Linked DNA regions of Homo sapiens. The protein of the gene in region 4 purifies or fractionates together with the protein of the main gene of each other region. This does not show direct contact. Each region holds a gene or a part of one and is shown on either strand. Other genes may lie near its edges. The genes, in order: XRN2, SART1, CACNA1C, UPF3B, PAIP1, PYM1 and WBP11.

What was found.
Region 1: the proteins of UPF3B (region 4) and XRN2 fractionate together in Homo sapiens (co-fractionation; one large-scale study listed by BioGRID). This does not show direct contact.
Region 2: the proteins of UPF3B (region 4) and SART1 fractionate together in Homo sapiens (co-fractionation; one large-scale study listed by BioGRID). This does not show direct contact.
Region 3: the proteins of UPF3B (region 4) and CACNA1C purify together in Homo sapiens (co-immunoprecipitation; one large-scale study listed by IntAct). This does not show direct contact.
Region 5: the proteins of UPF3B (region 4) and PAIP1 purify together in Homo sapiens (co-immunoprecipitation; one large-scale study listed by IntAct). This does not show direct contact.
Region 6: the proteins of UPF3B (region 4) and PYM1 fractionate together in Homo sapiens (co-fractionation; 2 studies listed by BioGRID). This does not show direct contact.
Region 7: the proteins of UPF3B (region 4) and WBP11 fractionate together in Homo sapiens (co-fractionation; one large-scale study listed by BioGRID). This does not show direct contact.

The regions. Positions count from the first base shown.
Region 1 is NC_000020.11:21,386,828-21,390,325, reverse strand, and holds the end of XRN2 (5'-3' exoribonuclease 2), read right to left. Parts: intron 3,459-3,498; coding exon 3,320-3,458; intron 1,054-3,319; coding exon 988-1,053; 3' UTR 501-987; downstream 1-500. UniProt on the Homo sapiens protein: Possesses 5'->3' exoribonuclease activity. May promote the termination of transcription by RNA polymerase II.
Region 2 is NC_000011.10:65,964,734-65,968,233, reverse strand, and holds part of SART1 (U4/U6.U5 tri-snRNP-associated protein 1), read right to left. Parts: intron 3,143-3,500; coding exon 3,016-3,142; intron 2,893-3,015; coding exon 2,787-2,892; intron 2,533-2,786; coding exon 2,455-2,532; intron 2,348-2,454; coding exon 2,248-2,347; intron 2,159-2,247; coding exon 2,016-2,158; intron 1,885-2,015; coding exon 1,678-1,884; intron 976-1,677; coding exon 851-975; intron 764-850; coding exon 648-763; intron 556-647; coding exon 413-555; intron 1-412. UniProt on the Homo sapiens protein: Plays a role in mRNA splicing as a component of the U4/U6-U5 tri-snRNP, one of the building blocks of the spliceosome. May also bind to DNA.
Region 3 is NC_000012.12:2,584,487-2,587,986, forward strand, and holds part of CACNA1C (voltage-dependent L-type calcium channel subunit alpha-1C), read left to right. Parts: intron 1-16; coding exon 17-131; intron 132-889; coding exon 890-1,010; intron 1,011-1,348; coding exon 1,349-1,418; intron 1,419-3,500. UniProt on the Homo sapiens protein: Pore-forming, alpha-1C subunit of the voltage-gated calcium channel that gives rise to L-type calcium currents. Mediates influx of calcium ions into the cytoplasm, and thereby triggers calcium release from the sarcoplasm.
Region 4 is NC_000023.11:119,842,964-119,846,463, reverse strand, and holds part of UPF3B (regulator of nonsense transcripts 3B), read left to right. Parts: intron 1-1,167; coding exon 1,168-1,266; intron 1,267-3,162; coding exon 3,163-3,273; intron 3,274-3,500. UniProt on the Homo sapiens protein: Involved in nonsense-mediated decay (NMD) of mRNAs containing premature stop codons by associating with the nuclear exon junction complex (EJC) and serving as link between the EJC core and NMD machinery.
Region 5 is NC_000005.10:43,533,078-43,536,577, forward strand, and holds part of PAIP1 (polyadenylate-binding protein-interacting protein 1), read right to left. Parts: intron 2,564-3,500; coding exon 2,457-2,563; intron 1,894-2,456; coding exon 1,776-1,893; intron 716-1,775; coding exon 661-715; intron 1-660. UniProt on the Homo sapiens protein: Acts as a coactivator in the regulation of translation initiation of poly(A)-containing mRNAs. Its stimulatory activity on translation is mediated via its action on PABPC1. Competes with PAIP2 for binding to PABPC1.
Region 6 is NC_000012.12:55,917,895-55,921,394, reverse strand, and holds part of PYM1 (partner of Y14 and mago), read left to right. Parts: intron 1-3,500. UniProt on the Homo sapiens protein: Key regulator of the exon junction complex (EJC), a multiprotein complex that associates immediately upstream of the exon-exon junction on mRNAs and serves as a positional landmark for the intron exon structure of genes and directs post-transcriptional processes in the cytoplasm such as mRNA export, nonsense-mediated mRNA decay (NMD) or translation.
Region 7 is NC_000012.12:14,793,479-14,796,978, forward strand, and holds part of WBP11 (WW domain-binding protein 11), read right to left. Parts: coding exon 3,329-3,500; intron 1,627-3,328; coding exon 1,493-1,626; intron 1,259-1,492; coding exon 1,059-1,258; intron 445-1,058; coding exon 253-444; intron 1-252. UniProt on the Homo sapiens protein: Activates pre-mRNA splicing. May inhibit PP1 phosphatase activity.

The DNA.
Region 1 (3,498 bases), on a different chromosome or scaffold from region 4:
TGTATGTGTGTCTAAATATGTTTTGGCAATCAAATGAAAATGCATATGTAAGTGCTGTATGTGAACTCCAAACACACATTTAAGCAATTTATAGTGTACTTAGTAGCAAGGAAAAACATGAGTACAAATTGCAATCTAATGACATACAAAAATATGCTAAGGAGCATAGACTATTTGGCCATTAATTAAAATTGTCAACTTGAAGATTTAAAACAAGTCCTTAAAACTGGAGAAGTCTACATTAAATTTGTAAAAATGTAATTTATCTCACAAAGATTTCTGAGTTAGCCAGATCAGTCACTGACATAATACAACAAAGTTAAAGCTTTTGTTATGTCTTGCTGACCCTATCTTTTAAAATCTACTTCTTCATTGACTTCTTTGTCCTTTGGTTTGGACATCTGATTACAGAAATAGTTTTCTGCAAAAGTTAATTTTAAAAAACCACGCTTGGTCAAGATTTTCAAAGTTGAAATACTGCAAAATAACAACACAAAACAGAGTTTTAAAAGTTTAACTTTATTTTTTTTTACTAAAGTTCAGAAATTTCTGTAAGACAAGTACATTAATGAAATGTTTCCAAAGAAATACTGAACAATATATACTCTAGTTTGCTGAGGTTCCAGCTCGAGTTCAAACCTAATTCTTGTGCAATAAAAATCAGCATGGATCTTAGATGATCTAGAATACACTGTGTTTTGAAATCCACAGCTGGTTTCATTTTTAACCATTATGAAAAACCAGTACTCCTATTCCATCAAATGTGTTTTATAAGCAATAATAAATTCAGATCCACTGTATTATGCAACATACATCTTTGGAAAGCAACATAAACAGTGAGATCAGATCAGTAGAAATATACACAGTTAAAAGAAATACACAAAGTACTGTAGTTTTATTAAAAACTACTACTTGAGAAAGAAATCTTTCCACAAATAGCATAAAACTGTAGAATGATGAAAGGATTTGGGAAAGCTTTACAAAAGCTTAATTCCAATTGTATCTTCCTGAGGGTGGTGGCAAAGGGTATTTCCTTCCTTCTCTGGGATATCCCTGAAAATAAACAAAAGAAAGAGTTTATTTTCTGGACCGATACTCCTGCAAGTCAGTTAACTTTAAACCTCTATGGAAAAACACATCATAAGGAAACTGAGTATGTGTTAAAGGTACAGCACATGGAAAGGCCCCATAAAAGGTGCTTTGATCCAGAGCTTTAATACAGACTTGTTGCAAAGTTGGAGGCTAGCACAAATGCTATTACTGAAAAATAAAACAAAAAACCTTAACAATCACAAATGCACACAAATAACTAAAGTGTTCTGTGTAAACAACATGTACAGACAGTGGTTCTCAATTTTCTCACTGTCCTAGCAGTAGTAATTCAAGTCACTTTGTGGTAAGATACCCACATCAATTTAGACTTATTACACAAGGAAAGTAACTTTGCTTTAACCAAGGCAAGAGCTTGCTAAGTCAGTTAAGGCCAAATGAGCAATTGATTTTAGGGATTTTTTATTTAGCAACAAATAGTAGGGCTTTAAATGACATATTAAGGTTATTACACAATCCATTAGCCGTGACCTTTATAACATATCCTAGTATGTTTGCAAATAACATTTCTGTATAACAAAAGATAAACCTGACACCTCTTCATTATAAGTCCTTTCCTAGGCCTCTAGGGTTTTGAAATGGAACCCCCTCCCACCTCATTTTGCCACCCAGAGAGCACTTCAGTACTTTAAACATGAACATGTGCAGACTCAAGGCCAGAATGCAGGCTAAGGCCTTGTTTGGTCATATAAAACTTTACTAAAAATACAATGAAGTAATGATTCTATGTTTTTAACAACAAACTTCTGCAATTTAATAGTGCTTCAACAATTGTGATTTAATAAAAAGTATCTCCCTGGCAAAGGGACTGAGAAAGAAGAAATGTTATTTTCAAAAAGTCCTAAAAGAATAATAAATTTACCAATTGGTTTATATCTTCTAAGTAAATAAGAATTTTACCTCCTGTAACAGCACAGAGTTCCTTTAAAAGGAAGATCTCCAAAGGAGAGAGGAAAATGGATGAACTGGGGTCAGCAGTCTAGGCAGCCAGCTACCAGTTCTCCTGCTGAACCGTGTGGGGTTTTCAGGGTTTCAGTTCCTGACTTGGAAAATGAGGTGACTAGACTACACATTCTCCAAGGTTTCTTCCAGTTACAAATAGTCCTCACTTCAAAAATGCTCATCACTGAAACGGCCTAGTGCCATCTAACCATAGTAACATAAAGAGCCTTAGTTCACTGACACGATTTTTAGAGGTCCTGGGCTGAAAGAATTCAAAGCAAAATTCGATAAACTGATTCAAATAAACTGTAACAAAATCTCAGAAGAAATTATTTGCAATTAAGGTGATTATCTTCTTGTAAGGTGGAGATACTTGTAAGAATACATCAAAAAACATACAAAATATGTTCCTTAGCTGTGAGAAGAGAGGTCTTACTAATTAATATGTGAAGCACTGCAAAAGGCCTGGAGGCAACACCAGGTAAGCAATTTAAAAACCACTTCACATCACTGCAGGTGCCAAACTCCATACACATTACTCTGAATCACAGCATTCTAATCTTGTTCTCTAGTAAGGATTCCATTAAGAGCATGTAAATACTGGCCAGGGTGTCAAATTGCTGGAGGAAATTATGTCAAATAGACCTCAGTCTTAAATGCTGCTAAAACTGGATGCTGTAAAGAGAAGGACATGAAGCTTACATATACTAAATTTGTCTAGGAATTATGATAGTCATTCAGTGATACAGCTGCTTACATTGAGAAGAAAAATATGTGGAAGATTATCAAGCAGAAATTTCTTTTATGAGGAGGGATATCAGATGAATCAAGGCAGGAGACTTCTAAAATGACAACATTGTAAAATGACTTCTAAAAGACAACAGCTGAAAAAGCAGACTTACTTTCCAGCTTCCAGAAAATCATCACCCATTAAGAGGGATCTAGGTTCTATTGAAGAACAATATCCTTAAAGGAAAAACAATGTGTTTTGGTGACTGACTATACTTGGACTAATTATCACTGACTGCTATGATTTAAAGGGCTTTTGGGTTAGAAATTCTTTGGCATCTTCAAGGTATATAACCTATTTAGTGAAGCAGGTACTCAACCCATATACATTTTTAATGACAGACCCAAGTTCAGCCAAGCTACTCTAAGCTACTCTATCAGTGTCTTCTCCAGAAATGTTGGTAAGAAAATACGGAGTCCTGTGAGGCTTGTTGAAATATAAAGTGAGCAGTATACTTTTCATCCCACAACCATTTACCTGTCTCCCTCCACGATCATCTCGTCTGGGTGGATACCCACCAGGCCCAGCTAGCATCTGGTACTGGTTTGGCTGGAAGGCTGCATTCTGGGTTTGCAGCATCCGGTTCCATGGGAGCAGAGGTTCAGCCCCAACGCCTCTGTAGGAAAGTACCAGTTTTACATCAGAAGCCACACCTA
Region 2 (3,500 bases), on a different chromosome or scaffold from region 4:
GCACACACCTGTAATTTTAGCATTTTCGGAGGCAGAGGCAGGCAGATCATGAGGTCAGGAGTTGGAGACCAGCCTGGCCAACATAGTGAAACCCCGTCTCTACTAAAAATATAAAAATTAGCCGGGTCTGGTGGCGTGCGCCTGTAATCCCAGCTACTCAGGAGGCTGAGGAATAAGAATCACTTGAGCCTGGGAGGCGGAGGTTGCAGTGAGCTGAGGCTGCGCCACTGCATTCCAGCCTGGGCGAAAGAGCGAAACTCTGTCTCAAAAAAAAAAAAAAAAAACAAACCCAGAAAACAAAAAACAAATGGAAAAGAGGCTTCAGACAGGAATGTGGCTGTCGCCTATGACACAGGTGCTCGTGAGGACAGGTGACTGCTGACGCAGTCACCCTGCCCATGCCCAGCCTCACCTTCTCGCCACTGTCTCGCAGCTGCTGTAGCTGCTGTAACTGTCGCAGCCGGCGTCCCTTCTCCAGCTGCTTCTGCAGCTCCAGCTCCGCCTCGTCCTCCTCCAGCACCTGCGGGGACCCCGGCGGTGGAGCTCCACCTTCCTCTGGGGGAAACACAGGGGATGCCTGCTCAGACCATCTCCTCCAACCCGCGGCTCCTGTCCCTGCCCCTCCCACCCCCTGGCCGGGCCCTCACCCTCATCACTGATGTCCATGTTCTCCACTCGGGTGTCGTCCGACGGCAGGGGCTGAGGCACAGGCTCCTTCTCCTCCTCCACTTCGGACACTCGGCGGCGACCCCGTCCCCGCAGTCTGAGGGAAGGAGGCCTCTCTGGTGAGCACCGGTCCCCAGGCCACCCCAGCCCAGCCATCTCGCCCCACCACCGTGTCCAAGCCCACCTGGAACCAAAGTCCCCATCCTGAGTCTGGTCCCCGAGAGGCAGCAAGTCATCTGCCCGCACTACTACCTCCTTCTCCTTCTTGCGGATTTTCTTCACCCTCCGCTTGGTCTTTTTAAAGGTCACCTTAAGGGAAGAGGGGCGAGACATGGAGCGGGGGCCACAGAAAGGCAGGTCGCCACAAGCCCTCGAGGGTGAACACTTCTTTGGTGTTCCTCTGTGCTAGCCAGCGTCCTGAGCGCTTCCCACACATGAGCAACATGTGGGGTGGTTACTATCTCAATTCCACTGGTGAGCTAGGGAAACTGGGGCACAGGGAGGTTAAGTACCTTCCCCAAGGTTGCCCAGCTCCTAGGTGGGAGAGCTGGGCAGTCTGGCTCCAGAGTCCTGCTCTTACCCACTGAGGAAGACGCCTACCGCGCCAGCTGTCTACCTCACGTTCACACAGTCACCCTGTGGACAGAATCCACGCACACCTCTCCAGTCACCCCTCACCCACGCTGTCACTCATCCTCACAGCAACCTCAGGAGGCGGCTCCTGTCACTGCCATTCCAGATGGGGTGCCCCAGGCTCACAGTTAAATGGTTTATCCAAGGCACGAGCTGGCAGCATGGCAGAGCCGAAACAGACTGGGGCCCATCTGGCTCAGCAGCCCTGACCCATCCACACCTGGTGCCTCCCCCGGTTGCCATTTAGTGCTCACCCGCGAGGCCAAGCGCTTTGTGAACACAAATACTCGCCCTGTCTTCTCAGTGCCTGCGGGCAGGGCAGGAGCCCCAGAGGGAGGGAGAATCTTGACCCCGAGTATAAGGCACGGGAGGGCTCACCATCTCCTCAGGCGTGAGGTATTCGGAGGCCAGCCGGGGCCCCACTGTGCTCAGGGACTGAGCCTGCAGCCGCAGCTTGGCCCGGATCTCCTCCAGCTCCCGCTCCCGCAGGCCATCAGCCGTGCCGCCCTGCTCCAAGCGGAAGGAATGTGGCCGCTCCCCTTCAAGCTCTTCGTCATACTTGGACAGGATAGAGCGAGGTTTTTGCTGCAAGGCAAGAGGTACAGGTTGGGACCCAGGCTGGCTCCTGAAAAGCCACTGAGCCACCACCTCCTCAGAGCCCCCATTCCCGACATTCTCCACCTCAGCCCCCGCCACCCAGCCTGCCCAGGCCGTGCCTGCGCCAGGTCGTCCACGCTCTCGTCCTCGGCATAGGGCAGGTAGTCAGGCTTCTTCTTCCGCAGCTCCACATTTTTCTCTGCCCGCTCCTTATCCACCAGGTTCACGTTCACCAGCACGTCCTCCTCCTCCTGCAGCACGCCTGGGGGCAGCACAGAGCAGTGGCCATTCACACTTGTCCGCAACTCAGCAGAGGCTGTGCCCCCACCCAGGGCACCCAGCTCGCATTACCTTTGTCCTTGAGGGTAAGAATCATTGTCTCCCCTTCTCGGAAGGAATCAATGGCATGCTCCACGGTGAGGCCCTGCAGGTCCCGGGCACTGTACAGGTCCTAAGGGAAGAATCGGCGAGTCAGGAACCTCCCTCCACGCACCCAACCTCGGGATTCCGGTAGCAAGGCCACCAGTGTCCCCTGTACCACCCCTGCTGCAGCCTCACCTGCCGCCTCTGCCCGAACTCCTCCTCCACCAGAGTGCTGACACCAAACTCTTGGTCCATCTCCTCCAGTAACTTGGCCTACGGGACAGGGAGGGGTGACCTAGGACTTCAGGCCACTCAGCATCACCAGAAAACACTCAGGGCTCTACCAAGCGGAGTGCAAAAAGGGCAGGCCTTGCAGGAAAGCTGCTGAGAATCCAAAGTAGATGCTACCGACCACGGCCCTTCCCTTCTCCAAGCCCCGTCTCACCTCTCTGGGGTTGGCCCCCGCCTCAGTGCCGTCAGGCCACCAGAAGCACTAGGCGACCACCCCATGCTGCCCAGGTGCTCACCCTCTTCTCTGCCAGGTCCTTCTCCTTCTGCAGCTGCCGGCTCCTCTCGATCCAGGCTGCAGTGTCGTCCAGCCAGGGGTCATCCTCTCCTAGGGTCTTTATCTTCCTGAAGAGGGGAAAAAGTGATGCTCAAGGAGCCCAGCTCCTGCTCCCCACCCCACTCAAGAGGCAGCCAAGGATGGTGGCCTCCCCAGCCCTTCCCTTGCCTGCCCTGGCCAGGACCCCTCACCCCAGCTTTTGGTTCAGCAGGCGCTTCTCCTTGGCAGCCGCCAGCTTCTCCCGCAGCTCCTCTCGCTGTCGCAAGGCCATAGGGTTGATGACATCAGCTGTCACGGGCTCCTCCTTGGTGCCCGCCTCTGGAAGGGGGGCCCAGACGTGAGGCTATGCCCGCCCATGGCTGGTGGGGAGAGGAGGGAGCCACTCACCCTGCCCCCTTCCAGCTCAGGGGGCCAGAAGGGGTCAGGACAGGAAGGAACAATCCTTCACCTCCCTGCTCCCACTTCGTCCCCACACTCCTGGCCAACCCATGCAGCACAACAGGACCCTCTGTGGCTTCCAAAGCCCCTCAAATCGTGCTTTAAAGAAAAACAAGAAACCCACCCCCGCACAGCGCAGTCTGCAGCAAGTGTGCACATCTTCCAGTCCATCTAACAACTCACAGCCAGAGTGAGTATGCGACGGCCACAGCTCCAACTCAGAGAGCAGGCGGAGCCC
Region 3 (3,500 bases), on a different chromosome or scaffold from region 4:
GAATGGACACAAACAGATATCCTACTGAATGTGTTCTTGGCCATTGCTGTGGACAACCTGGCTGATGCTGAGAGCCTCACATCTGCCCAAAAGGAGGAGGAAGAGGAGAAGGAGAGAAAGAAGCTGGCCAGGTAACCCTCTAAGCTTGCCCAGGCCTGGGGCTCCAGGGCTCCCATTGTGGAATGTCTTCCCACTGGTGGCAGAGAGAGGCTTGACTGCTAGCCTCTGTTGGCTCTCCCTCCTAGGAGGACTCTGGGTTTGGGGCTTCCTAAGTTGGGCCTCTCTCCTAATTCCTAAGCATCACTCTGGTAGGGACCATCATGAATTATAATAATCTCTGCAATGGTGTCATATTCTCCACCTGCTGGGATTATCTTTTGAGAAGCTGTGATAGGTGGCAGGAGTGTAGGGTGGGGAGAGAGAAAGGTAACCACTCAGTTGGGAAACGCAGCTCCAGCTTACAGAGGGAGTCCTCCTCACTACTTTATAATTCATCTCCAGTGTTAGGAAGGCAAGACGGGGCCCTATGTTGTATCCTATCATTATCTAGACGGGACAGTTCCAGGCCACACAGCTGCCGGGCACTGAGCAGAGCTCCTCCAGGAGCCAATCCTAGATGAGATCCACCATCCTTTTCTGCTTTGGCGACCCAGGCATCTCTGGAGCTGCAAGAGGCCAATTGCGTGTCAGGCAGAGCAGGTGTAGCTCAGCCCCATAGCACTTGTGACTGAGCTGCACACGAGAAGCGTCCTGGAGAAAGGAAGATGGACTCAGACCCAGGGGATCTGTCCCCTCTGGCCCCAACAGGCCACAGGGCGGTTCCCTCCTACACTGTTCCCTATCACTCCAGTAAACAGCCATTTATTTTTTTCTGCTGCTGACTGGCCAGGACTGCCAGCCCAGAGAAGAAACAAGAGTTGGTGGAGAAGCCGGCAGTGGGGGAATCCAAGGAGGAGAAGATTGAGCTGAAATCCATCACGGCTGACGGAGAGTCTCCACCCGCCACCAAGGTGAGGAGCTGTCTCCTTCCTGGAGCTGTGAGGCCGGTGCTGGGGAGGGAGGGCCACAGCCTTCCCAGGCCAGAACCCTGTGGAGAAGAGGAGAGAAAGAAAGACACCCAGTGGAAAGAAAGCCAGTGGGGATGAACAGGAGAGCTGGGAGGGGGAAGATAAGGCAGATTGGCTGGATCCCAGCCATCTGCTGATGTCTTGAAGGAGATATGCAAAGTGACAAGTACCTATTTTTGAGCTAAGTCACTGACTAAAATGCAACTTCAAGGCTACTGCAAGCCTCTTAACTTGGGGACGTATCTAACTATTCTTCCCCCTTCTCCCCTGTGACTGTCTAGATCAACATGGATGACCTCCAGCCCAATGAAAATGAGGATAAGAGCCCCTACCCCAACCCAGAAACTACAGGTACCAGTCCCACTGCCTAACCTGGGATTGGGAGATTGGGGGCAGAGATCTAAATTCTAAAGCCACGTGGGAGTGGCCATATATTAGGGACCATGGTTCCAGTGTCCCTCTGTAAGTACCTTCCACTGCTGAGTGTCTTCTATCTCTATATTTAAGCATCATCAGTCAGCATCTGGGAGGCAGGTTTGTTTCTGGTTTCCTCATAATGAGATCACATTTGAGCAGTGCTTTTGTGTCCTTTCCAAGTTGGATTCAGTGTACATTTAAATTTTTGTTACATTACATGTTGTAAAATCATCATTAATTTATATAATGTATTAGTATGGCATATGTTGCAACATTATGCTCACTTAATATTAATAGTCAATCCCAAGTCTGCCTTGCCCCTACTCAGGAGGCAGTGCCGAGTGCAGGGACAGCTGCCACCACAGATGTCCCACTTGTTGCTTTAGGCAATGATTTCAGGTCTCATTATAAAAGGCGCGCTTACTGACTCCATCTTTTTATGCTTCTATCTGATACCTAAATTGGCAGGCAGTCTGCTTCTCAAGAGCTTTAATGTCAGAGATCAGAGGTCCTCCCTCCAGGCTTCACTTCCCTGCTCCCTGAAATCCCATACCCTGTGCAAGGCCTGGGCTTGCCTTCCTCTGACCTAGGATTGCAGATATTATCGCCAGTTTCAAGCTTGAAGTCAATAACATGCTATCAAGGGACTGTTGATTTTACTGACATTTCCTTGTTCCTGTAGGTTAGGCTATATTTGGGTTGTTCACCAAGTTAGGTGGCTGAGAACCTCCTACATTTATGAGCAAAGCTCGGTTTCCCTTTTTGCTTTCCCTCCGCTGGTTCTCTGCTTAGAACACTCACAGGCATCCTTGGGAACCAGACTCCCTGTGGTCACACCATCCTCACTCCCCTCCTCCTGCAAGGGAATAGGATGTGGTTTCCTGGAGCTTGGATAGAAAGAACAGGAAGGGCGTTTTCATATGCCCGGCATTAAGGCTTTGAAGTTCTTAAAACCCCTTCTAGGGTGAAACCGTTAGGGAATTTCAACGACGTACTAGAATTATTGAACAAATGCAATGGGAGGATCTTGCCTTGATCCTGAAGCAACAAATACACTTTAAAATGACGTTTTAGAGGGAAATGGGGGAAATTGAATATGGACTGGGAACTAAATGATTGAAAGTAGTTTTGTTAATCTTGTTGGTATAATATTTTGTAGTTCTGTTTTTAAACTGCTGCAGTGTTTATGGCCAGAGTCTAAATGTTTACGAGTTGCTTTGCTTTTAAAATATTCCAACAAAAAAAAAATGGGGACAGAGAAGATAAATGGAACAAGATTAGCAAAATGTCCAAAGTTGTTGAAGCTGGTTATATATATGAGGTTTAGTATGTGAGACTGTACTCTTGTGTAAATCTTTAAGGTTTAAAATGAAAGACAGTAATAAAACAAATTCCTTAGAGCCCTGAGAAGAGCCCTCCCATGGGGCCAGCCTCCAGGATGGGCCTCCCTGCACACACAACAGGGCAGATCTAGCATGAGGGTCTTTTCACACAGGCACCCAGCTGCAGCCAGGCCTGTACGGCAGATACACCTCTTGCATCTTCAACAAAAATCTCAAATTCTATTAATCTATACTCTTGGCTTTTCTTTTCTTTGTTGCTCTAATGAAATCAAAGAGAAGAATGTTAATTTTAAAAAAAAAGGGCTAATGAGGATTTTGTCACCAGGTCGGCCATCCTAGAAATGCCTCTCACGTAGCTACCCAGTGGCTCTGAGGACTGGGGGATGCTTACGCTTTCCAGCTGAAAAGCTCTTCCCACCCTCTGCTGAGGCCTCAGGATTCTTGAGATTTTTGAGTGTACGGCCCGCTCCCCGTCATTTCTGTTGGTTACATGTGTCTCTTTACTTTCGTGTTGAGACCTCTGGTCCATACCCTGAGGCTGCCCTGACTGCCCCACCACGTACACCAGCCACCACTCCGGCCTCTGAAGCCAGCCCCAAGCATGCCCATTTGTGCACTATCCCTGGTTTCCAGGTCCTCATCCAGGAGGTCCAAAGGGCAGCATGCTCTTAAA
Region 4 (3,500 bases):
CTCCGCCTCCCAGGTTCAAGTGATTCTCCTGCCTCAGTCTCCCAAGTAGCTGGGATTACAGGCGTGCACTATCACGCCTGGCTAATTTTTGTATTTTTATTTATTTTTATTTTTATGTATTTATTTTTTTGAGACGGAGTCTTACTCTGTCGCCCAGGCTGGAGTGCAGTGGCATGATCTCGGCTCACTGCAATCTCTGCCTCCTGGGTTCAAGTGATTCTCATGCCTCAGCCTCCAGAGTAGCTGGGATTGCAGGCACGTGCCACCACGCCCAGCTAATTTTTGTATTTTTAGTAGAGACAGTGTTTCACCATGTTGGCCAGGCAGGTCTCAAACTTCTGACCTCAGGTGATCCTCTCATCTCGGCCTCCCAAAATGCTGGGATTATAGGCATAAGCCACGGTGCCCAGCCCAACGTGATAATTTTATATATGTATACATTATGAAATGTATACATTATGAAATGTATACATATTGTATACATATATACATTATGAAATGTATACATAATGTATACATATATACATTATGAAATATATACAATCAAGTTAACACATTCATCACCTCACATAACACATCACCTCAAATAGTTACACTTTTAAAAAATAACAGCTTTATTGAGATATAATTCACATGCCTGAAATAGTCACCCTTTTAAAGTATACAGTTCAGTGAATTTTAGTATATTCATAGGCTTATGAGCCTATCACCACAATCTAAATTTAGAACATGTTCATCACCCCTAAGAGAAACCCCACCCATTAGTTGTCACTCCTCATTCTTCTCACCACTTCTACCCCAAACTCCAGGCAGCTACTACTCTACGTTCTGTCTCTATAGATTTGCCTATTTTGGAGATTTCTAACATTTTAAAATGAAAAATAGTTTGTAGGGTCTTTTTCACATTAAAATATCACATTTTATAAGTTGAATTTATATGAATATTTTACTTTCATGCCGTGTTGTTTCACTATGTTATCAGTGTGAATTTGTGGCTCCTTTTGTAGTATGTTGATTATGGTTGTGCCAGTGTGCTTTATGCCTTTGGGAGACCCTCTTCAGATGACTGCCATCAAAAGAGTCATAGAAAGCAATGGGTTGATTCCCTTATATCCACTTTTGACATTTTCTTTGTTATAGCAAGTGTGGTATTTTTTTTCTAAACAGGTCAGGAATATCCCGCTATAGTAGAATTTGCACCTTTTCAAAAAGCTGCAAAAAAGAAGACTAAGAAAAGAGATACCAAAGTCGGGACTATCGATGATGGTACAGTATAGCTCTAATTATATAATGCTATTGCTGTGGGGTTTTTAAAAATAATATCTTTGTGAGAGTTAATTCGACCCCAAAATTTTAAATTAGAAAATATACAAAATAAAGTAAGTGAGAAATGTTATTTGCCGATGGAAGCTTTGCTTAATTGTTAGACTAGAGAGAGTTTCTTGCACAGAATCTCTGCTCTCTTTGGCTAGGGCATTTCATTCTTCAACCATTGAACAATATAATGTTGACTATTGAGTAACAAATCACCATAGGTTTATTGATTAGAAGATAGTGGAAAGGCCAGGCGTGGTGGCTCACGCCTATAATCCCAGTACTTTGGGAGGCCAAGGCGGGCGGATCATCTGAGGTCAGGAGTTTGATACCAGCCTGACCAACATGGAGAAACCCTGTCTCTACTAAAAATATAAAATTAGCCGGGTATGGTGGTGCATGCCTGTAATCCCAGCTATTCGGGAGGCTGAGGCAGGAGAATCTCTTGAACCCAGGAGGCGGAGGTTGCAGTGAGCTGAGATCACACCATTGCACTCCAGCCTGGGCAACAAGAGCGAAACTCCATCTCAAAAAAAAAAGAAAAAGAAAATAGTGGAAAAAAATCAGGTTTCAAAGTTTAACAGGTGCTTCTTGAGGCCTCACCATTTTTATGATTATTTATTTGACTTTTGGTTTCCATTATATTTATAAAGAAGAAGGTTTGAACTGTCATGGGAAAATTTCCATACCCAGGTAACTTTGTATAAAGTAGCTGAAGTTGTCACTCCTATTTTCTGGTCTTTGGATATACAATTAGCTACACACATAGTATTAGGTTGAACAGGAATAGAAGAACTGAGGCCAGGCGCGGTGGCTCACTCCTATAATCCCAGCACTTTGGGAGGCCAAGGCGGGCAGAGTTGCTGAGGTCAGGAGTTCGAGACCAGCCTGGCCAACATGGTGACACCCCATCTCTACTAAAAACACAAAAATTAGCTAGGCATGGTGGCGGGCACCTGTAATCCCAGCTGCTTGGGAAGCTGAGGCAGAAGAATCACTTGAACCCGGGAGGCGGAGGTTGCAGTGAGCTGAGACCGCACCATTGCACTCCAGCCTGGACAACAAAAGCAAAACTCCGTCTCAAAAAAAAAGAAAGAAAGAAAGAAATACAAGAACTGAAAAACCAAAATAATTGCCATTTAAGGTACACTGGCTCCAGATTTTGAGACCTCTGTAATGTTATGTTAGATAGCTGTTACACAACTCTTTATGTTGGATAAGGACTAGGACCATATTTTATATCAGATTGTTACTTTAGAATCATCTAGTTTAATTTCCATCATTTGTTACTATTACAGGTATTTTATAAAGAAAACACGGTAAGGACTCAATAACACATAGCTGTGATACTGGTTTTATTACAGATTTAGATCTGGAAGACTTGATCAAGTGACACATAGAAACAAGCAATATAATGGCTTAGATGTGTCACCCTTTCTGATGTTAGAGGTCTAGGAGAGAACTCCAGGAATTCCCATCACCTCAAGTGCCACATCTAGGACTTCTCTCTAATTTATCTTTTTGGAACACCTAACTTAGTTTAGTAGGACAGTGACTTTTAAAAGCAAACTATGTAATACCCCTAGTGGTTCTGTTATAATGCATGGCGTCTCATTTTTCCTGACCCCATGTTATACCAGATTCCTATAGTGAGTATCAGTGATAGGAGTCCTGAGAGCAAGTGACCAATTAAGCTCTAAATAGTCTACCTTGTGGGTATGGTTTGGTTTTTTTTAATCTTCCACGAAGTAAAAAATTATCTTCTTTGATAAATCAGTATTGTAGATAATGTCTTCTTTTTTTGTTTAAAGTCTATTATATTTTCTGTTTCCTCAAATGATTATTTAGATCCAGAATATAGAAAGTTTTTGGAAAGTTATGCCACAGATAATGAGAAAATGACATCTACTCCAGAGACACTGCTAGAGGAAATAGAAGCAAAAAATAGAGAATTAATAGGTAAGTGGGCAAAAAGAATCAGGGCAACAGTCTTTTCATCACAGTACCTAAGTCTCCTACCTCCATCAGTTGCTAGCTGTGTGACTTCAGGGAAGTTACTAGTTTCTCTGAGACTGTTACTGTAAATTGCAGATGGTAATACCTGCCTCACAGCATTATGAGAATCCATTAAAGTGGGAAAAATTCTTTGACCTATTTAGTTTCACACAAATGTAATATAAATACAA
Region 5 (3,500 bases), on a different chromosome or scaffold from region 4:
CTTCCTTGCCCTAAAAAAACTTCTCTGTGCTAGAGACACAGGACAGTCAATGCTTGGAATCCAGAGGAAACAAATGGAAAAATTCCAACCATAAGCTGGTTGCAGTTTGTACCAAAGGGAAAAATTTCTCTTCCTCACTCTACAGTTCCATCTAATACAATTAAGGCAATCTTTCTATAAATGGTCCTCTTCTGGAAGAGGAAATGTGCAGAGATTTGGATTTTAATTAACTGTCACACACCAAGTATGAATGAAATGTGTAATTCTTCGTGTAAAGTATTAACCCATATTAATATATGTTGCTGACTATGCAGTGAACTAGAATCGTCTTTCCCCTCCATTCTAATCACCTGAAAATTTAAGATTATAAAAAAGTTAGAGGAAATATAAAATTAAAATAGTTGCATTTAATTGAGAATTCTTCCCATCCTCTGTTGTTAAGTGACAAGACATTATATGTGGAATCATACTTTCATTTGAAATGTTTCAAGTGGTCACTATGAAGAGCATTCTATATTAGACAAACCATTACACTGGTATTTTAGAATGATGTGAAGACATCAAAAAGTTACAATCTTGTGCTGGTGAGGATGTGGTTTTCTGTAAATTTACTACTTTACCAAACAACTGGGAGGAGGGAATGACTGTGAGACAACATACCTGGATCAGCTGCAGTGAAAGGAACACCATCAGATGTATAAAATGTTGGTTCATTCTAGGATGAATCAAAGTGATAAAAATATGTAATCATTTCAGAATTGATTTTTGTAAGTACAATAATGAAGCATGGCTGATGTCACCCGTCTGCACCTAATAATGCAAGAACAAGCAAAGGAACCTAACTTCCTGGTAGCCATTTTCACTTCACTGAGAAAGTCTATGGTTTTCAGATTTCCATGCCATTATCTCAAGTTCTTGTGGTTCTAACGGTGCTGTCTATTGTCTTTCAGTGAACTGTTCTGTTGTGCATTGTCATTTAGTGTCAGTGCATTTTTAGCTGTGGTTTCCAACCCCACCATTTCTTTTAAGAATTTCCAGGACCAGGGCTGGAGGAACATTTCTCCACAGCTGCTTTATGTTTGTTCATGTCAGGAGCTTCAGGGCATCACTGGCCTAGTAGCCATTTTTTTTTTTTCCCTGAGACAGAGTTGTGCTCTTGTTGCCTGGGCTGGAGTGCAATGGCGTGATTTCAGCTCACCACAACCTCTGCCTCCAGGCTTCAAGCAATTCTCCTGCCTCAGCCTCCCGAGTAGCTGGGATTACAGGCAAGTACTGCCACGCCCAGCTGACTTTGTAGTTTTAGTAGAGACGGGGTTTCTCCACGTTGGTCAGGCTGGTCTTGAACTCCTGACCTCAGGTGATCTGCCCACCTTGGCCTCCCAAAGCGCTGGGATTACAGGTGTGAGCCACTACGCCCAGCCAACCAATTTTATTTTATTTTTCGTTACTACAACATGCAAAGTAAAAGTCTGAGATGCAGGTCCTTGGTTATAAATTCTCTGGAAAAGCTGCTTCCTGGCATCCCTGTGCTCACTTAAGTCCAAGCCTTGTCAATCTCTCTTGCCATTGGATATATCTTTCTCTAGTCCACCCTTTCACTGGAGAATTCCAGGTCTCTTTTCTTTTTTACCCAGTCTGATGGCTGCCATGTCACTCAAAGCCAGTGAAGACAGTTATTAGGCACTGAATTCTGAGAACAGCTTTATGTAGCTCTTCTAATTTCCAAAACGGAATTCAAGCAATAAGTAAAACTTAAAATATAAACACTGGCATACCATAAAGTAGTTAGGATCATTTTCTGGTGTTGCTTCTCTATATGTTGAAGTTGCATGGACTCTGCCCCAGTTACTTGACCGGAGTTCTACAAGCTTCAAGAGCATCTGTTTTACATCTCTGTAGACAAAGTTGAAAATGAGTTAGTGTATCCACCATAAGGGCTGTCAGACCCTAAAATATCTCAGATTCCCAAAACTTTATTTCCTTAATTTAACAGGTACATCTGATGCCTTGACTTTCTAGACGTTTCCTATATGACATAAATTCATTTAAAAAAAAAATAGCCTTGAATTATGTTCCACGTAACTATGACTATATGGACCTTAAAGGCAGTGGCTATCCTTCAAACATTTTTATGTGTCCTACTATACTTACAGTAGTACTTTTATTTGTTGGACAGTTAATATTTGGATTTTGTTTTTCATTTAATTCATATCTTAAGAAAATTAGCTTTTTCAATTTCTAAATGTAATTGAGCAAAAATATCTGACACGTCTATCACAAAAATGTCTAGTGAGCAGAAACTATAGGTAAAATATTATTCCTTTAAAGAAAAGCATTTTTGTATATCCGTTAGCCATCAACTTACCCTGCTGAAGTATAGCAAATTAAAAAACAATCTCCAAAGAAAAAGCAAGAAATTGAGATGCACTGGCTATTTACATTACTTCTTTTCCTACCTACTGCAGTTTGCATCTAGGACAACGTTTTCAATTCTCTGAATAATTTCTTCCATATCCATCTTTCCTTTTTCCTTCCAAGCATCTTCCAAAACTGATCCTGTCAACTAAAAAAGCAGGTGTCAGTAAAATAAGAAATTCAATAGTGTATTATAGAAATTCTAAAAAGATACCAGTAACAGTTCAAGCATTCTCTAAACAAGATGAATTTAGCAAGTTTAATATTCCTAATTATTCTGTCTACCATCTAATATTCAGTGATCTCTACGCCCTCTATATTTCTCTTGACTGAGAGAAACTAAAACAAAAAAAACAATAGCAGAACTTTAATCATGGGTTTTATGTCAACGACTGTTATATTCCCTGTATGACTAAGATAGGCTATTAGATTTTAATGAACATGTCACTTTTTTTGAAATATACAGCAAGCAACAAGTATAGAAGCTTTGAATAAAAAAAAAAAACACAAACATGCATTTCATCAGGAAATAAATCAGTTAAGGATTTAAACAGGTAATTTATAGGAAATAATAAACAAATGGCTAATAAACATGAAGAAATGCTTAAAATCATCTGACAAAACAAAAACCAAGATTGATTATATCCATCACTATAAGGATGTAGGAAGAGATGTACTCATTCTGCTGATGGGGCTATACTCTGGTTCAGCATTTGGAAGGCAAATTAGCCATTACTTGTCGTAAAATACATATGCTCGTCCACCCACCAAATCCGTGTTTAAGAATTTAACCTACAAAAGTATCTGCACATATATATGACAAGAGGAAAGATTACAAGCAATGCTGCCATGGCTAAACTGAAGATAATCCAAATATTCATTAGTAAACATTGATAGATGTTACGGAATGGATAAACAATGCATATGCATATGACAGAATACTAGGAAGTTATTCAATAAAAGAGGTAAATCTCTGTGCCATGGAAAAATCTAAGATGTTTCATTAGGTGGCAAAAACAAAAACAAAAAGCCAGAACAGAGTAAGATCTTATTTAATAAGAGCACATATACAGAGATAAGAAGGG
Region 6 (3,500 bases), on a different chromosome or scaffold from region 4:
ACTTGTTAGCTATATAGCCTTGGGAATCTAAGTCTTAGTTTTCTCATCAATGAAATTGGAATAACTCCTGCAACACAGGATTATTATGCGTATTAAAATTTAAATAAAGTAATTTACATGTTTGGCACATAAAAAGTGTCCAACACATTGTTCTATAATTATTACTATTATGTAAGGGTCATTGTATGGGTTAGAAGAAATTACTATATATGGCCAAGTACCAGGCATAGTACTTGGGCCATTCCAAGTGCCTGCTAAAATTCTAGTTTCTGTTGTTCTGCAAATATTACTGTGACCTCCTAAACTGGTCATCGTATTTCCAGTCCCTCTCTTGTTTCATTTCTACAGATACACTGCTACCAGATTACTGCTTCTTAAGTGCAAATTTAGTTATGTAATTTTTGTTCAATATTAATTCATCAACCCAGAGTCTGCTGTTATATATGGCATATATCTTTCTAAACTGTTTTAAACATAGCAGAACCAGATGGTATATACATTTTTATATCTTGCCTTTTCATTTAGCCTTATGAGGTAAATGTTTTTCCTTGCTATTAAAAACTCTGTAAACATCTTTTAAAATACTGGCAGAGTGTTTTATAGTTTGGGCATGCACCCTATCTTACTTTCTTCTGTTATTGGACTTTTAGATTGTTTTCAGAATTTTTATTATAAGAACACTAGAATGTTTTTGTGCATGCATCTTTTTCGGCATTTAGGGTTATTTTCTTTTTCTTTTTTTTTCTTTTTTTTTTTTTGAGACGGAGTCTCGCTTTGTCACCAGGCTGGAGTGCAGTGGTGCGATCTCTGCTCACTACAATCTCCACCTCCTGGGCTCAAGTGATTCTCCTGCCTCAGCCTCCCGAGTAGCTGGAATTACAGGCATGCACCCCCACTCCCAGGTAATTTTTGTATTTTTAGTAGAGATGGTGTTTTACCATGTTGTCTAGGCTGGTCTTGAACTCCTGGCCTCAAAGGATCGCCCACCTTGGCCTCCCAGAATGCTAGAATTACAGGCATGAGCCACCGTGCTCGGCCTGATTTTTTAAATTATCTGTAAGATGAGGTCTTGCTATGTTTCCCAGGCAGGTCTCCAACTCCTGGGTTCAAGTGATCCTCTCACCTTGGCCTCCTGAAGTGTTGGGATTATAGGCATGAGCAACTAGTTTTTCTTTTCCTTTTTTTTTTTTAAAGAGACAAGGTCTTGCTCTGTTGCCCAGGTTAGTGTACAGTGGCACAGTCATAGCTTGCTGTAGTCTTAACTGTTGGGGTCAAGCAATTCTCCTGCCTCCTCCTCCTGAGTAGCTGGTACTAGTACTACAGGCATGCGCCACCATGGCTGGCTAATTTTTGAATTTTTTTATAGAGCTATGTTGCCCAGGCTGTTCTCAAACTCATTTTCACAAGCAGTGCTCCCACCATGGCCTTCCAAAGTGGTGGGATTACAGGCATGAGCCACTGCACCCAGCCTAGTTTTTCTTTTTTCTTTTTCTTTTTTTTTTGAGACGGAGTCTTGCTCTGTCTCCAGTCACCCAGACTGGAGTGCAGTGACGCGATCTCTGCTCTGCCAACTGGGCTCAAGCTATTCTGCCTCAGCCTCCCAAATAGATGAGATTACAGGCACGCACCACTATGCCCAGCTATTTTTTTGTATTTTTAGTTAGAGATGGGGTTTCACCGTGTTGGCCAGGCTGGTCTCGAACTCCTGACCTCAGGTGATCTGCCTGCCTTGGCCTCCCAAAGTGCTGGGATTATAGACGTGAGCCACCATGCCTGGCCCCCAGCCTAGTTTTTCTAAGCACATATGCATATATAACATTAAGGTAAAATGACATATTTTGAATTATACTGTTAAGATTGGCTGTTATTTTCTAAAATATGAATCCTTGAAACACCTAGTAATCTTCTGAGATGTGACACAAAATAAATAACTAAAATAGAGGCCGGGAGTGGTGGCTCACGCCTGTAACCTCAACACTTTGGGAGGCTGAGGCGGGTGGATTGCTTGAGCCCAGGAATTCGAGACCAGCCTGGGCAACATGGCAAAACCTCGTCTCTACTAAAAATACAAAAAATTAACTGGGTGTGGTGACACACACACTCCTGTAGTCCCAACTACTTGGGAGGCTGAGGTGGGAGGAATTGCTTGAGCCTGGGAGGTGGAGACTGCAGTGAGTCAAGGTCCAGCTATTGCACTCCAGCCTGGGTGACAGTGACCTCATCTCAAAGATAAATAAAATAAAATGCAAATAATGTTTCTGTGCACAAATTTTGAGAAACACTGTAAACCATATTCCCATCTTGCATATGTACCTGAATAAGAACATAGTAACTCATTTAAGCCTTGCTGTTAAAAAAAACAAACGCAAAATCTTTTTTGGTGTTTAACCCAGAATTTCCCAAACTTATTTAACAATTTTTAGGGATAACCCCTGTTTAATATCTTATGGGAGTAGTATTTTACATAACAAAAGCTTTGGGAAATGTGATTAAATGATAGGACTACCTTTTTTATTTTTGTTTTTTTGAGATGGACGCTTGCTCTGTCGCCCAGGCTGGAGTGCAGTGGTGCAATCTCGGCTCAGTGCGACCTCTGCCTCTCAGGTTCAAGCGATTCTCCTGTCTCAGCCTCCCAAGTAGCTGGGACTACAGGCACGTGCCACCACGCCCAGCTAATTTTTGTATTTTTAGTAGAGACGGGGTTTCACCGTGTTGGCCAGGCTGGCCTCAAACTCCTGACCTCAGGTGATCCACCCGCCTTGGCCTCCCAGTGCTGGGATTACAGGTGTAAGCCACCATGTCCAGCCTAATTTTTAAATTTTTTATAGAGATGGAGGTCTTACCATCTTACCCAGGATGGTCTTGAACTCCTGGGCTCAAGTGATCCTCCTACGTCAGCCTCCTAGTGTGCTGGGATTACAGACGTGAGCCACCATGCCTGGCCTATTTGTTGATTTCCATTTTTATTTTAGATTTAGAAAATGTGCAGGTTTGTGGTTGGGCGCAGTGGCTCACGCCTGTAATCCCAGCACTTTGGGAGGCCGAAGCGGGCGGATCATGAGGTCAGGAGATTGAGACCATCCTGGTTAACACGGTGAAACCCCATCTCTACTAAAAATACAAAAGAAACTTAGCCGGGCATGGTGGCGGGCACCTGTAGTCCCAGCTACTCGGGAGACTGAGGCAGGAGAATGGCGTGAACCCGGGAGGCGGAGCTTGCAGTGAGCCGAGATCACGCCACTGCACTCTAGCCTGGGCGACAGAGCGAGACTCCGTCTCAAAAAAAAGAAAAAAAAAAAAAAGAAAATGTGTAGGTTTGTTACATGGGTATAATTATGTGATGCTGAGGTTTGGGGTATGAGTGATCCCATCACCCAGATAGTGAGCTTAGTACCCAATAGTTAAGTTTTTTTTTTGTTTGTTTGTTTGTTTTTTGTGATGGAGTCTTGCTTTGTTGCCCAGGCTGGAGTTCAGTGGTGTGATCTTGGCTCACTACAACC
Region 7 (3,500 bases), on a different chromosome or scaffold from region 4:
ACCTTTTACCCCAAAGTGAACTTTATTACATAGACATTTTTATTACATACAGTTTAATGCTTTTCCTCATAAACATCCACTGAGTACTTACTGTGTCAAAAACTTTCAAAATTTTAATATATAAGATGAACACAGCTATGATCCCGACTTCCAAAGATTTCAGAGTACTCTCACAGATTCATTAATAAATTAGGACCTTCAGCTTGTTTTCTCTTTATTGATCAATACCATGAATCCTTCATCTGCACATACCTGACTTCTTTTCTTCATTGTTGTCTCTCTCACCATTATCACGGTGCACAAATTCATCCCCGTCACTTTCTCCATCTGATTTGTCGGTGTCACTGTCATCAGTACTGTCATCATGCTTATCTTGATCCATGTCCTCAGGATAGCCATCATCTTCACTGGTGCTAGAAACATCATCATCATGACCTCGCTGGGCTGAAAAGTGGGAAGGGAACATGGAGAAGTAGTATGATTGGACCCTCCACTACATGGTACCCAGAAATACAGAAAATTATGCTATTCAACTCAGACTGTAACAACTTAATTCTTACCAAAAAAAAAAAAAAAAAATTCTTGTATATATAGCTACTCATACAGTCTAACAAAATTTTCCTCTGCCAATAATTTTAAACACTTCTTTTTGGTAATTTAAGATTTTTTTAAAAAGAGTTCTAATTTGAAAACCCATTTCCTCCTTTAGCAACAATCATGTTTGTATACACATACACAGTCAGTGAATGTATACAATGACGCTCTAGTCTGATGACAATAAAGCTAAAAGGGAACCAGATATACAAGTCTTAAAGGATTAGCAGCAAGAGTGACATCTCCAGGAAAAGCCTAATTTAAAACACGATAAACATTTCTATACTTATGTATGATGCTTTTACTTGAGAAGATCCTATGATTTATCCAACTGTATGTATATTAGTTATGTACATGATACCCTCTCATTTACTTTCTAAGTTCTGAGGGTGGTGAACAATATGTTAAACAGGGCCAACATAAAAAATGATAGTTATAAAAGCAAAAGAACAGTCACTTCTCACCAAGTTCAGGACTATATAACATGTCTTCATCTCGCCTACGAGGGGGAAGATCTAGGGCAAAACCCACTTTACGGCCATACATCTGCACGACTTGAGGAGGAGGTGGACCAGGGGGAGGGCCAGGAGGTTTTCTGCCAGGGGGCAAACGTGGAACACCATGTCCAAGAAGAGGAAGGATAGAAACTGCCCGAGTTGGAGGTCTGTTAAAAAAAAAAACAAAAACAAAAAAACCCCCACAGTAATCACTTAACAGTAATGAGATATTTATTTTCTCTTCTAAACAATTTTCAAGGGATTTCTTATTTTACATTTAATCAAATGTCACACTGTTTACATCCATATTGTCTTTTATTTCCCTCTGCATTAATTTTGGCACTGGACAGTCAACTTGTGCCTTTACTAAATGCTCTCTGATTGTGACACTGCTTCCTTACCCATAGGCTGAGGTTTTCTTTAGGATAGAGGGTGGCTGGGCACCAGGAAGTGGAATGTCCTGGATCAAAATGTTGGAAGGAGCATGTGGCATATCTGGCAAAGGAATACTCTCCACTTCCACATGCTGAGCATTCTGAAACAGAGAACCATTCAGTAGTATGATAAAAAAGTCATCTACTAACTAAACACTAAAAATGACAAGTCAGCTGTTTCGTAACTTGGACATGCTTTCCAACTAACATAAATATCACCAAAAACCCCCAGAAAAATAACCTTACGTCAATACTTCCACATTGTCAAAGAACTGAAAGAAATCTTTACTTCTAAAAACGTCAGAACCCAGCTGTTTTTTTTCTCCTCTTATCAGGTAATTCTTTTTGGATGATTCGAAACAGCTGTTGTCTAGAGAAAGCCAACTGTTACAAGTATCTAGCACCAGAACTACCCTATTTAACATGTGATAGAAAAATACATGTCAGGCTGGGCGTGGTAGCTCACACCTGTAATCCGAGCATTTTGGGAGGCTGACGCAGGTCGATCACAAGCTCAGGAGTTTGAGACCAGCCTGGCCAATATGGTGAAACTCCATCTCTAATAAAACTACAAAAATTAGCCAGTTGTGGTGGCGTGTGCCTGTAGTCCCAGCTACTCAGGAGGCTGAGGGAGGAGAATTGCTTGAACCTGGGAGGCAGAGGTTGCAGTGAGCCAAGATGGTGCCACTGCACTCCAGCTTGGGCAACAGAGTGAGACTCGGTCTCAAAAACAAAAAATAAACAAAAAAAAGAAAAATAATATATGTCAACTAACAAATAGTATATATCCAGTGGTGGAGGTTGGGCTCATTAGCTTGCCTATGTTGAATTTCTGTTGTGTATTAGCTTAGTTTGACTAAGCAAGGTAACCTGTGCCTTCATCTGTAAAATGGGAGACATATTACCTCCTTTACAGAAATTATAGCATTTGATTTTTTCCCATCTTTATTTTGAGGTAAAATTTACGAAATTTACAAATTCAGTAAGTTTTGACAAATGCATATACCTCATACTCCTTCCCAATCCATCTCTAATATCATCCCCCAAGGCAACCACGGCTACATTTTTTTTTCCTGCACAGATTATCTGTGACTATTCTAGAATTTCATAAAAATGAAATCATAACAATGAGATAAACTTAGCATGTTTTTGAGATTTACTCACAATTTTTCTTTTTTTATTCCATGCTGTTTTGAGTATTAGATTATTCCTTTTATTGCTGAATAGTATTCTATTGTATAAATATGCTACAGTTTAATTATCCATTATCCTATTAGTGAACACTTAGGCTGATCCAAGTTTTTGAATTAATTTCTTCTGTTTAAATAAAGAGGATTAGATTTGCAGGTTCACACAGTAGGTATATGTTTAGTTTTAGAAGAAACTGCTATAAGGAAGAGGTTCAACATGACATTCTCCCATTAACTTTTTAAATCTAAGTATAGGCTGAGCATCCCTAATCTGAATATCTAAAATGCTCCAAAATCCTAAACTTTTTGACTCCCATATGATGCCATGGTGGAAAAATCCACACCTGACCTAATGTGATGGGTCGTAGTTTTGTTTCATGCACAAAATTTATAAAATTATCTTCAGGCTATGTGTATATGAAACATAAATTTCATGCTTAGACTAGGGTTCCATCCCCAAAATATATGCAAATATACACAAAAACAAAACAAAATATAAAAAAAACCCAACAACCCTAAATCCAAAACACTTCTGGTCCCAAGCACTTTGCATAAGGGATACTCAATCTGTATAATATTTTAGTTTATCTCTCAAAAAAAAAACCTTGATTACCTTGACAGCATCAAAATATTGGCTAAGTTGAGCCCTCTTCTGTTCATATTCTACTTCTAGCTTTCTCAATTCTTTGTAAATATCTGGATTCTCTTTTTCATAGAGTCGTAGAATACGTTCAAAGGTTTCACGCAGCTTTTTACGCTTGTCTTTCAGTACTTTCTCATTTAAT